Linked DNA regions of Homo sapiens. The protein of the gene in region 1 purifies or fractionates together with the protein of each later gene. This does not show direct contact. Each region holds a gene or a part of one and is shown on either strand. Other genes may lie near its edges.

Region 1 (7,302 bases):
ACATTAGTGTCCATACTTTGAGTGTGCTTGAAATTTTTCATCATGAAAAATGTAAAAGATACATAATCCTGTCATCCAGAGGTGATTTTTAGAGATTTTTTTCAGACATAAAAAGATCTGTAAAAACTATGTTGTTTATGTCTGAAAAGACCTATAAAATCCATTTCTCGCTGACAGGATTATGTGTCTTTTTTTTTGTTTTTGTTATGGAAAGTTTTTTTAAATGAAATAAAGTTTTATAAATTTTCAGTATAGCAAAATAAACTTCCATAAGACTTGAGGTGAGATAAAAGAAAGAAACAGTGTTCTAACCCTCCAAATCAAGGTTTTTCAAACTATGCTTAAAGAGGAATTCTCTTAAAATGGACTAATTGGGCATTTCTCAATTTATGGTGAATGGATTTTGAAAGGCTAATGGATAAAATGTTCTCAAGTTGAATTTTTCTTAAAAATTTGGTGCCTACTCAAAAGTGCATGAACAAGTAGCAAAATTAAGTAGTAGGGCTTAATTCAAAAGCTCATGTGATCATAGGATTTGAAAGTGTCTGCATATAAGCATATTGTAACTGCCCAGTGGGTTCTTCTTCCCCACTGCCCAGGTAGAGCTGATCTATCAAGACAGGAGAATTGCAATAAGGAGTTTATGTAGAGCTGCTAAATGGGAGAGCAGAGTTTTATTATTGCTCAAATCAGCCTCCCCAAACATGCAGAGTCTAGGGTTTATCAAGGATAGTTTGGTAGGCTGGGGGCTGGGGAATGGGTGCTCCTGGTTGGTTGGGGATGCAGTTACAGAGGTGGGGGCCAGAGGACCAGTTGGAGTCATCCGAAATGCAAAAGTCTGAAAAGACATCTCAAAAGGCCTTTTTTAGGTTCTACAATAGTGATATTATTTACAGGAGTAATTGGGGAAGTTACAAATCTGTGACTTCCAGAATAATGTCTGATTATCATTTAACTACCTACATTTTAGCAGAATTCAGACCCCTCTCATAAGCCTAACCTTATAGTCTTTCATTAGTTTTGCAAAGGTGATTTAGTTTCGGGAAGGGCTATTATCATTCTTGCTTTAAGCTTACACTATAAACTAAATTTCTCCCAAAGTTAGCTTGGGCTGCATCCAGAAATGACCAAGGGCAGCTTGGAGGTTAAAGGCAAGATGGAGTTGATTAGGTGAGATCTCTTTTACAGTCATGATTTTCTTACTGTTACAATCTTTGCAAAGGTGGTTTCAATAGTTCCTGCTAATAAATATGTTCCTAGGTGATTCTACAGAGAGCAGATTATTCCAAAAAGAGCATCATGATTTACAGACACTTATTCTAGCTGAACTTGTTTTTTTGTTTTTTTTTTTTTTAAGAGACAAGTCTCTGGGTTAGTGTGGTGGCTCACACCTGTAAATCCCAGCACTTTGGAAGGCTGAGGTGGGAGAATTACTTGAGCCCAGGAGTTGGAGACCAACCTGGGCAACATAGTGAAACAGTGTCTCTATTTAAATAAAAAAAAAAAGAGGCTGGACACGGTGGCTCAGGCCTGTAATCCTAGCACTTTGGGAGGCCAAGGCAGGCAGGTCACAAGGACAGGAGTTCCAGGCCAGCCTGGCCAACATGGTGAAACTCCGTCTCTACTAAAAATACAAAAAATAGCTGGGTGTGGTGGTGCACGCATGTAGTCCCAGCTACTCGGGAGGCTGAGGCAGAAGAATCACTTGAACCCAGGAGGCGGAGGTTGCATTGAGCCGAGATTGTGTCACTGCACTCCAACCTGGGTGACAGAGCAAGACTCAGTCTCAAAAAAAAACAGAGAGAGAGAGAGAGAGACAATGTCTTGCTCTGTCATGCAGGCTGAAATGCAGTGTTGGGACTTTGGCTCACTGCAGCCTTGACCTCCTGGGCTTAAGTGATCCTCCCACATCAGCCTCTCGAATAGCTAGGGCTATGGGCATGCTACCATGTCCAGCTAATTAAAAAAATTTTTTTTTGTAGAAACAGAGTCTTGCTATGTTGCTCAGGCTGGTCTCAGACTCCTAGTCTCAAGTGACCCTCCTGCCTCAGCCTCCTACGGTGCTGGGATTATAGGCATGAGCACTGCGCCTGGCCTCATCCTAAGCATGTTTGAGAAGTGTGGAGAATAGCAGAAAAACTGAAGATAGTGATACGTACAGTAATAGATGTATGTACAGAATTTTACGACAGCATAGGGCCTAAGGAAGTTTCAGGGAAGCCATCTGGGAGAATGTAATACTTGAGCAGAATTTAAAGAATGTGAATGCCAGGCGCGGTGGCTCACGCTTGTAACCCAGCACTTTGGGAGGCCGAGGCGGGCGGATCACAAGGTCAGGAGATCGAGACCGTCCTGGCTAACATGGTGAAACCCCATCTCTACTAAAAATACAAAAAATTAGCCGGGCGTGGTGGCGGTCGCCTGTAGTCCCAGCTACTCAGGAGGCTGAGGCAGGAGAATGGCGTGAACCTGGGAGGCAGAGCTTGCAGTGAGCCGAGATCACGCCACTACACTCCAGCCTGGGCAACTGAGCGAGACTCCGTCTCAAAAAAAAAAAAAAAAGAATGTGAAGTCTAGGGAATAGCACATAAAAAGGCAGGGAGACAGAAGAGAACATGGCACTCTGGAGTTGCTGCAGAAATTTCAGAGTGGTAAAAGGGAAGGATGTTTGTGAATTTGGTTAACTAGCCAGGAGTCTTTAAGGAAAGGACATACCATGATGCCATGCTAAGGAGTTTGGACTTTATTTTTTGTTTGTTTGTTGGTTTGTTTTGAGACAGGATCTCACTCTGTTGCCCGGTCTAGAGTGCAGTGGCTAGATATTGGCTCACTGAAACCTCTGCCTCCTGCACTCAAGCCATCCTCCTACCTCAGCCTCCCAAGTAGCTGGGACTATAGGTGCATGCCACCATGTTCACCTAATTTTTGTAATTTTTTTAAAGATGAGGTTTCACTATGTTGCCCAGGCTGCCCTCGAACTCCTAAGCTCAAGCAATCCTTGGCCTCCCAATGTACTGGGATTTACAGGCATGAGTCACTACATCAGGCCTGGACTTTATTTTGAAGAAAGGGGAGCAGGTGCTGAAATTCCAGTAGAGAATAACATGATTTTTTTTTTAGACAGAGTTTCACTGTTATTGCCCAGGCTGGAATGCAATGGGGTGACCTTGGCTCACTGCAACCTCCGCCTCCTGGGTTCAAGCAATTCTCCTGCCTCAGCCTCCCGAGTAGCTGGGATTACAGGCATGCGCCACCATGCCCAGCTAATGTTTTATGTTTTTAGTAGAGATGGGGTTTTTCCGTGTCGGTAAAGCTGGTCTCGAACTCCTGACCTCAGGTAATCCGCCTGCCTCGGCCTCCCAAAATGCTAGGAGGCGTGAGCCATCATGCCCGGCCGAGAATAACATGATTTTTTTTAGAAATTTACTTTAGTAGAAGTTACACTACCAGAAATATAGAAGATGACACAAAGTAGGAAAAAATGAGACAAGACCAGTTGGAAAGCTATAGCTAAAAACCAGGAGAGAAATGATAAGGCTTTACTTAAGAAGTAAGGGTAGAGAGAGACGATGAATTTTGAAAAGCTTGTAAAAGATAGGCTCCACCGGACTACAGTGTATGGGGGGTTGGGAGCACAGGGGTGAAGAAAATGGAAGTTTTCTGGTTGGAGTAACTAGGTGAATGGTGGTGCCATTAATGAAGTTAGGAAATTTTGGAGGCAGAGCAGGCTGAAGACATTAATAAAATGAATATCATTTGAATATGCATACTTCGAAGGTCCTGTGGGACCACTAGATGTCTATGCCCAATAAAGTCTGTACTAGAAACGCAGATTTAATAGTCACAGCACCATAAGCAGAGTGCATGGTTCCTTAGAAGAAAGTTTAGCAAATAATAAGCCCTATGGTTTCCTTAGTGGGAGACAAACAGCCTTCAGAATATACAAAAATCCCTGCCTTTTTGGAGCTTTATTTTAGCAGAGAGGGGAACAAGGGGCACATGGGCAATATAAAATAGTAAAATGTATGGTATATTAAATGGTGAAAGAAGTTCTGTGGAGACAGATTAAGCAAGGAAGTGGGACTGAGTATCAAAATCAATTTTTAGAAGGTTTGTTAAAGCTGATTAGCGGCCCCATACCCAGAGTTTCTGATTAAGTAAATTGGGAGTGGGACTAGAGAATTTGCAAGTTCCCATGTGATGCTGATGTTGCTGGTCTTTTTTTTTTTTTTTTTTCTGGTGATGAAGTCTCGCCCTGTCACCCAGACTGGAGTGCAGTGGCATGATCTCGGCTCGCTGCAATCTCTGCCTCCTGGGTTCAAGCGTTTCTCCTGCCTCAGCCTCTTGAGTAGCTGGGACTACAGGTATGTGCCACCATGCCCGGCTAATTTTTTGTATTTTTAGTAGAGATGAGGTTTCACTGTGTTAGCCAGGATGATCTCGATCTCCTGACTTCGTGATCCGCCCACCTCAGCCTTCCAAATGCTGGGATTACAGATGTGAGCCACCACACCCAGCCAACACATTTTTAAAATCACTAGGATAGAGAGTTGCCAAAGGGGTATGATGTTGCACTTTTAAAGAAGATGGTTAAAATGGGCCTAAGATGGTGACATGAGAGTAGACTCAAAGGAAGTGAGGGAGTTGGTTGTGTGACTATCTGGAGGAAGAGTTGATGCAAAAGCCCCTGGAATGTGCCTGGCATGTTTAAGGGACGGGGCAGAGTGCATCTGCAGAAGGTTGAAGCCAGAGAGGTATGGGGTCTGGATTGTAGAGGACAGTCCATCAGTCATCCATAGGATTTGGATGTGTTCAGCATAGAGGTACTATTTCAAGCCTTAAGATTGAATGAGATTGTCAAAGAAAGAGCAAAGCAATCTCATGATTTAAGGCAAAGTGTGATAATCAGCTAAGACACTGAGAACTGGGAAGCCTGGATGATTCTGAGACATTTTGAAGCAAGGAACAATAGAACTTAGAGCAGAAAGCAAATGACTCAGGGAAAAACATCAAAGGTGATACCAGGTTTTATAACCTAGGAGAGAAGAATGATTGAAATTGGGATAAAAGGGAGACGAGGAGTAATTAGGAAGAGGATTTGATTTCTGAAAATCAATTATAAGCAGTAGTTCCCTGTTTATCCTGTTGCCTTGTGCCAGGTGCAGTGGCTCACACCTGTAGTCCCACAGCTTTGGGAGGCCAAGCCAGGAGGATATCTTGAGGTCAGGACTTTGAGACCAGCCTGGGTAACAGAGTGAGATCCCATCTCTTAAAAAAAAAAAAAATAGCCAGGCATGGTGATGTGCCTGTAGTCCTAGCTACTTGGGAGACTGAGGTGGGAGGATTGCTTGAACCCAGGAATTTAAAGCTTCAATGAACCATGATCTCGCCAGTGCACTGCAGCCTGGGCGACAGAGCAAGACTTGTCAAATAAATAAGTAAATAGCAGTTTGGTCTTTTGTTGGAGGAACGTCTATTCTTAGCTTGGACACTGCGGTTTTTCCTTGGGCAGCAGAAGCAATGTGGCGATTGAAGAAGTGACCTAAAACTTTGATGTTAGGTAGAAGCAGATGGCCCAAGCCAAGACAAGTGCTTGTAAATCCACTGGTGGGAGCCCCTCCTCCTAACAGCAGGTTATTAACGCTGCCAGAAAAAAAGTGTCCCCTCTACCGGTCTGGTGAAGAAACCTCATCGCTACGGGCCTGGGACTGTGGCACTTCTAGAGATTCTCGTTACCAGAAATTGACCTAGCTTCTCATCTGGAAGCTGCCTTTCTAGAGGTTGGTGAGAGAGATCACCCAGGATTTCAAAACCAACTTTAGGTTTCAGAGCACAGTCATTGGGGTGCTGCAGGAGGCTAGTGAAGTGTACCTGGAGGCTAGTGAAGTGTACCTGGTGGGTTGGTTTGAAGATGCTAATTTGTGTGCCATCTACGGTAAGAGAGTTGGCTCTCATGCCCAAAGACATCCAGTTGGCTCGCCAGACACGGAGTGAGCGAGCTTAAGTGAAGGCAGATTTTAAGGCATTTTATATGAATTCTGTAAAATACTTTGGTTTAATTTGTGACTTTTTGGGGAGAAATTATTTATAATATGTTGCATTTGTGCTTAAGTCATTCCGTCTTTTGGGATGAATGTGAAAAGTGACTGTTCATAGACCTCAGTGACGTAAGCACTGTTGCTCAGGAGTGACAAGTTGCTAATACGCAGAAGGGATGGGTGACATTTTTTCATTCTCATGACGCATGTTTCTGTAAGTTAATGACTTGTTAGGTAGCTATTAAGGAACTAGAGTTGATAAATAAATGTGTATAGGTTCCTTTTGCAATATAACTGGTTATTACTTGATCCAAGTGTTTAACATTTGGAGCTAAGTCTGACCATACATTACTGTGATAGAATGTGGGCCTTTTCAAGGGTGAAGATACAAGCCTTAACCACAGTATAACTTGCAGTTTCCTTAAACAAACAAAGAAATAAAAACCTAGCATGGAGTACATTATGTGCATTTATAATAGCTATTTTAAATATTGTAGTGTCAACATTCAAAAATTAATTCTTTTACATTCGCAAATGGTGGGGAGTCTTGTCATTAAGGTGTGTATAACTTAGAATCCACTTGGTTTTCTCCTAACTGGACTGCATTTGTTTTCATAGTAGTAAAATGTTATGTGTATTACACCTTGCATAAGTCCTCATTCTACTACGTGTTAACTAACCCTCTAGATGATAATGCAGATGCTAACTGTGGGATTTTATTTATAAGAACTCTAGAATAAATACCAGTTATTCCTACCAACATCGGCTGTTACTAATATTCTGAAGTAGTTAGTGCAACTTTTCATTGTGTTGTGGTTGGTCTCCTAAGTAGGTTGGATTTTTCTCCTCTTCTAAGAGAAAACAATAGTGAAATTATTTTCTTTCTCTTTTCTCTCTGTTTCTGTCTCTTTCTCTCTCTCTTTCTCCCTTCCCTTCCCTTCCCTCCCCTCCCCTCCCCTCTTCTTTTCTTTTCTTTCTCTTCTCTTCTCTTTTCTTTCTTTCATGGGGTCCCTTGCTCAACCTGTTGCCCAGGCTGGAGTGCAATGACATGATCATGGCTCAGTGCAGCCTCAACTTCCTGGACTCAAGCAATCCACCTGCATCAGCCTCCAAAATGGCACATGCTACCATGCCCAGCTATTTTATTTTTACTTTTAGTACAGATGTGGTCTTGCTATGTTGCCCAGGCTGGTCTTGAGCCATTGAGCTCAAGTGATCCTCCTGCTTTGGCCTCCTAAAGTGCTGGGATTACAGGCATGAGCCA
Region 2 (3,099 bases), on another chromosome or scaffold:
CCATTCTACAGTGTATATATAGTGTACATATTTCAAAACATCATGTTGTATACCGTAAATGTCTACAATTTTTTTTTTTACTTGTCACTCTAAGGACAGTGGCTGAGGATTACCCTTTCCCACTTATTGGACAATCACTGACTAAAATTTTAGGTCCTAGTGCACCTGTATTAAACTTTAGAGCTATGCTGTCCGGTATAGCCACTAGCCACATGTGACTATTGAGATTCAGTTTAAATTAAATTTGCTTAGTTACACTGCCACATTTCAAGTGCTCAATCGCTAAATGTGACTAGCGACTGCCATACCAGACAGTGACGTCCTAGGCAAGGATGAATCCATACTTTTCTTCCTTTGAATAAAAGGCTTTGGTTTTCTAATTGTATGATGCACTCATTTTTTGCTCTTGCTTGTAAAAGCTACATTTGGCAGGGATTTCACTAGCTTGAGCCATGATTTTGTTTCTAAAATTGAGCAGCTCCCATCAGTACTAAAAAAACAGTCAAGAATCAAGGATCGGGAACCTATTTCACTCACTCCATTCCTGCCGTGAATGTCTGGAAGCTATACTTAGCTATGTTTCTGTATGTATGTACACACACACTGCTATATACATCTGAACAACCACAGCAGCAGCAAACTGAAAGCAGGAGTGCTGTCTTCACTGCCTCGGGAATGCCTCAGAATCTTTCTGCTTAAAGCATAGCAAATCACTTTTGATTGTGAACACTCTTCTGTTTCATTTCCTGATCATCTTTCTCCTGCTTTCCCCACAAAGGTCTGCTATTGTATATCTGTATAATAAAATAAAATTATTTGTAAGAATTGTATTCTTTTAGCTACTAGCTATCCCTCTGGGATGTTGTTAACCTGCCAGAAATTTTACAACTAAAAACAGTTACGATACCTTTTATTCATTCTTAGTCTTGACTTTTCTGACGTGATGTTTTAAATTCTTTCAATCAGTGATCTTAGAGATAGGGCAGTTTTTGTTTTTATCTGCCACTTTTATCCTTGCAGCATGCATTGGAGTTCACTGCAGACACTTTTTCTCAAACAGGAGATTGGGCAACCTTGAGTCCCCAAAAGGAACTTACCTGTCAGCTCAGGCTCTGGACCTGCTTAAAGCTTGAGACACAGGAGGGCCCTGAGCAAGAGAGAGAGAATAAAACTATCAGTTAAGTAGGAATGATAAACAAGGTTCCATTCCACATGTGGGAGATGGCCTGGCAGTAGCTGCTGGAACGCAGGGTTGAGAGAGAAGTACTGACAGAAGAGGATTCTTCGGGTGGAAGTGCAGAGTCAGCTGGTGATGGCTACAGGAGAGGGCAGCTCCCAGCCTGTGCCGTGGCCATCCCCAGGTGCAAGTGAAGAAAGAAAGAGGTGGGGTGAAAGGAGGAGAATCACCATATCACCATTTTTATTTTGATGCTTACACTCATTTATTCTGTTTTTGTAAAACAGTTTCAAGAATTTAAAAATCCTTCCAGTTAATAGAGCTTTTGTTATTATATTATAATTTTGTAAACCCACTTTGTTTTTCCCACTTTAAAGCCACAGGGTCGACTCATGGATGATACCTCTATTGCTGCTGCATGATGTTCAAGACCGGCCCTTGGCTGTTGTTACAGAGATGTTGGGCAGAGCTATGCAGGTGTTTCATTGTGAACTCTAGCTTTGATCATGGTAAAAAGTTAACCTTTTCTATTTTTTAATGGATGTTATACCAACTATTCAGAGGAACTCATACTTCAAAAATATTAGGAAAATCTGTCTTATAGTTTCTCTAATAAATATCTGAAATCTCAGTACGACATGAAAGAATGTCAGACCATTGTTATTGTTGAAAGTCATTTGATGAATGGTAAATTCTATGAAAAGTAAGTGATTTGCATGTATAATATCAGGAAAATTAAGCATCCCAAGTGTGACTGGACAAAGAGAGCAGATGCACCAGTGCCTGTGCCATAAAGTTCCGAATCCCCCATGTGTCTCTTTCAGAGCTGGCCAGACCGGAAATAAATCATTCTCATAAATTCAGTGTGTACTCAGAACACATACACAACAACATAGGGAGTTGTATGACTGATACGGAAAACTTCCAGAAAGTTTTAATCAAAGCAGTTTAATTAAGGTATCAAAAATATCTTTGCTTACTATCAAGAAGTGTCAAATAGGTTCAGCTTGCTGCCAAAATATGGATCATTTATGAAGCAGGTTCATATTTTAGAGGTGTTAATAAAATCCTCATCGGAAAAGATCCAAAGTGCAAGGATTTGATTATAAACATAATTTCCTAGACTGAAAGTTTTTGGAAAAGATGCAGGGTCTGAGTCAGGCCTTCTGGTTATATTGTGCAGTTTCAAAAGAACTATTTAAAACTCTTGAAAACTCATGTAAATAAAAATCATAGGGTGAAAATTGTATTTGTTAAAATACCTTAATAATTTAAAATGACCTGATTTCCTGGAAAATTTTATTATTCAAAAGGTGGAGGCATTGTAAAAAGGAAATAGTGATGTAAATAAACATGTTCTCTTTCAAGTATGCTTGTCTGTCTCTATCTTTTATTTTGAGCTTGTTTGATTTCAGCTTCATGGAACAGCTTTTACTAAGAACACTGTTGCATGAGATGCAATGGCAAGCACAGGATTGAAAATTGGGCTGTGTTCTAGAACTGGCTCTGGTAACATTATGTGAGAGTTGGACAGTGCTATCTTGGGAGGACATGAGCTCCCTGTTGTAACATGGCTTTTCAGGTAGAGGCCATGGAGCATGACTCTAGAGTCCAGCTGTCTAGGATCAAATCCCTCCTCTGCTGCTTTTGTCTGGGTGACGTTGTTCAAGTTCCTTACCCTCTGTGTATCTCAGCGTTCTTGTATATAAGATGTAAATAACACCCATCTTATAGGCTTGTTATGAAGGATGATATAGATTCATACATGAGAAGAGCTTGGAACAGTGCCAGACCCAAAGTTATGTATGAGGGTGCTCAGCCAGTGTCATCTATATTTTTATGGGAAGGCTGAAGAGGGTATTCACTTTTCTACTGGAGAGTTCCATGTTATCAGAATTTGTTGATACATTTTACATAATTTA

The links.
Region 2: the proteins of TRAPPC6B (region 1) and TRAPPC11 purify together in Homo sapiens (affinity purification with mass spectrometry; 2 studies listed by BioGRID and IntAct, with this or other methods). This does not show direct contact.

The regions. Positions count from the first base shown.
Region 1 is NC_000014.9:39,160,308-39,167,609, reverse strand, and holds part of TRAPPC6B (trafficking protein particle complex subunit 6B), read left to right. Parts: intron 1-7,302. UniProt on the Homo sapiens protein: Component of a transport protein particle (TRAPP) complex that may function in specific stages of inter-organelle traffic.
Region 2 is NC_000004.12:183,711,046-183,714,144, forward strand, and holds the end of TRAPPC11 (trafficking protein particle complex subunit 11), read left to right. Parts: intron 1-1,554; coding exon 1,555-1,599; 3' UTR 1,600-2,544; downstream 2,545-3,099. UniProt on the Homo sapiens protein: Involved in endoplasmic reticulum to Golgi apparatus trafficking at a very early stage.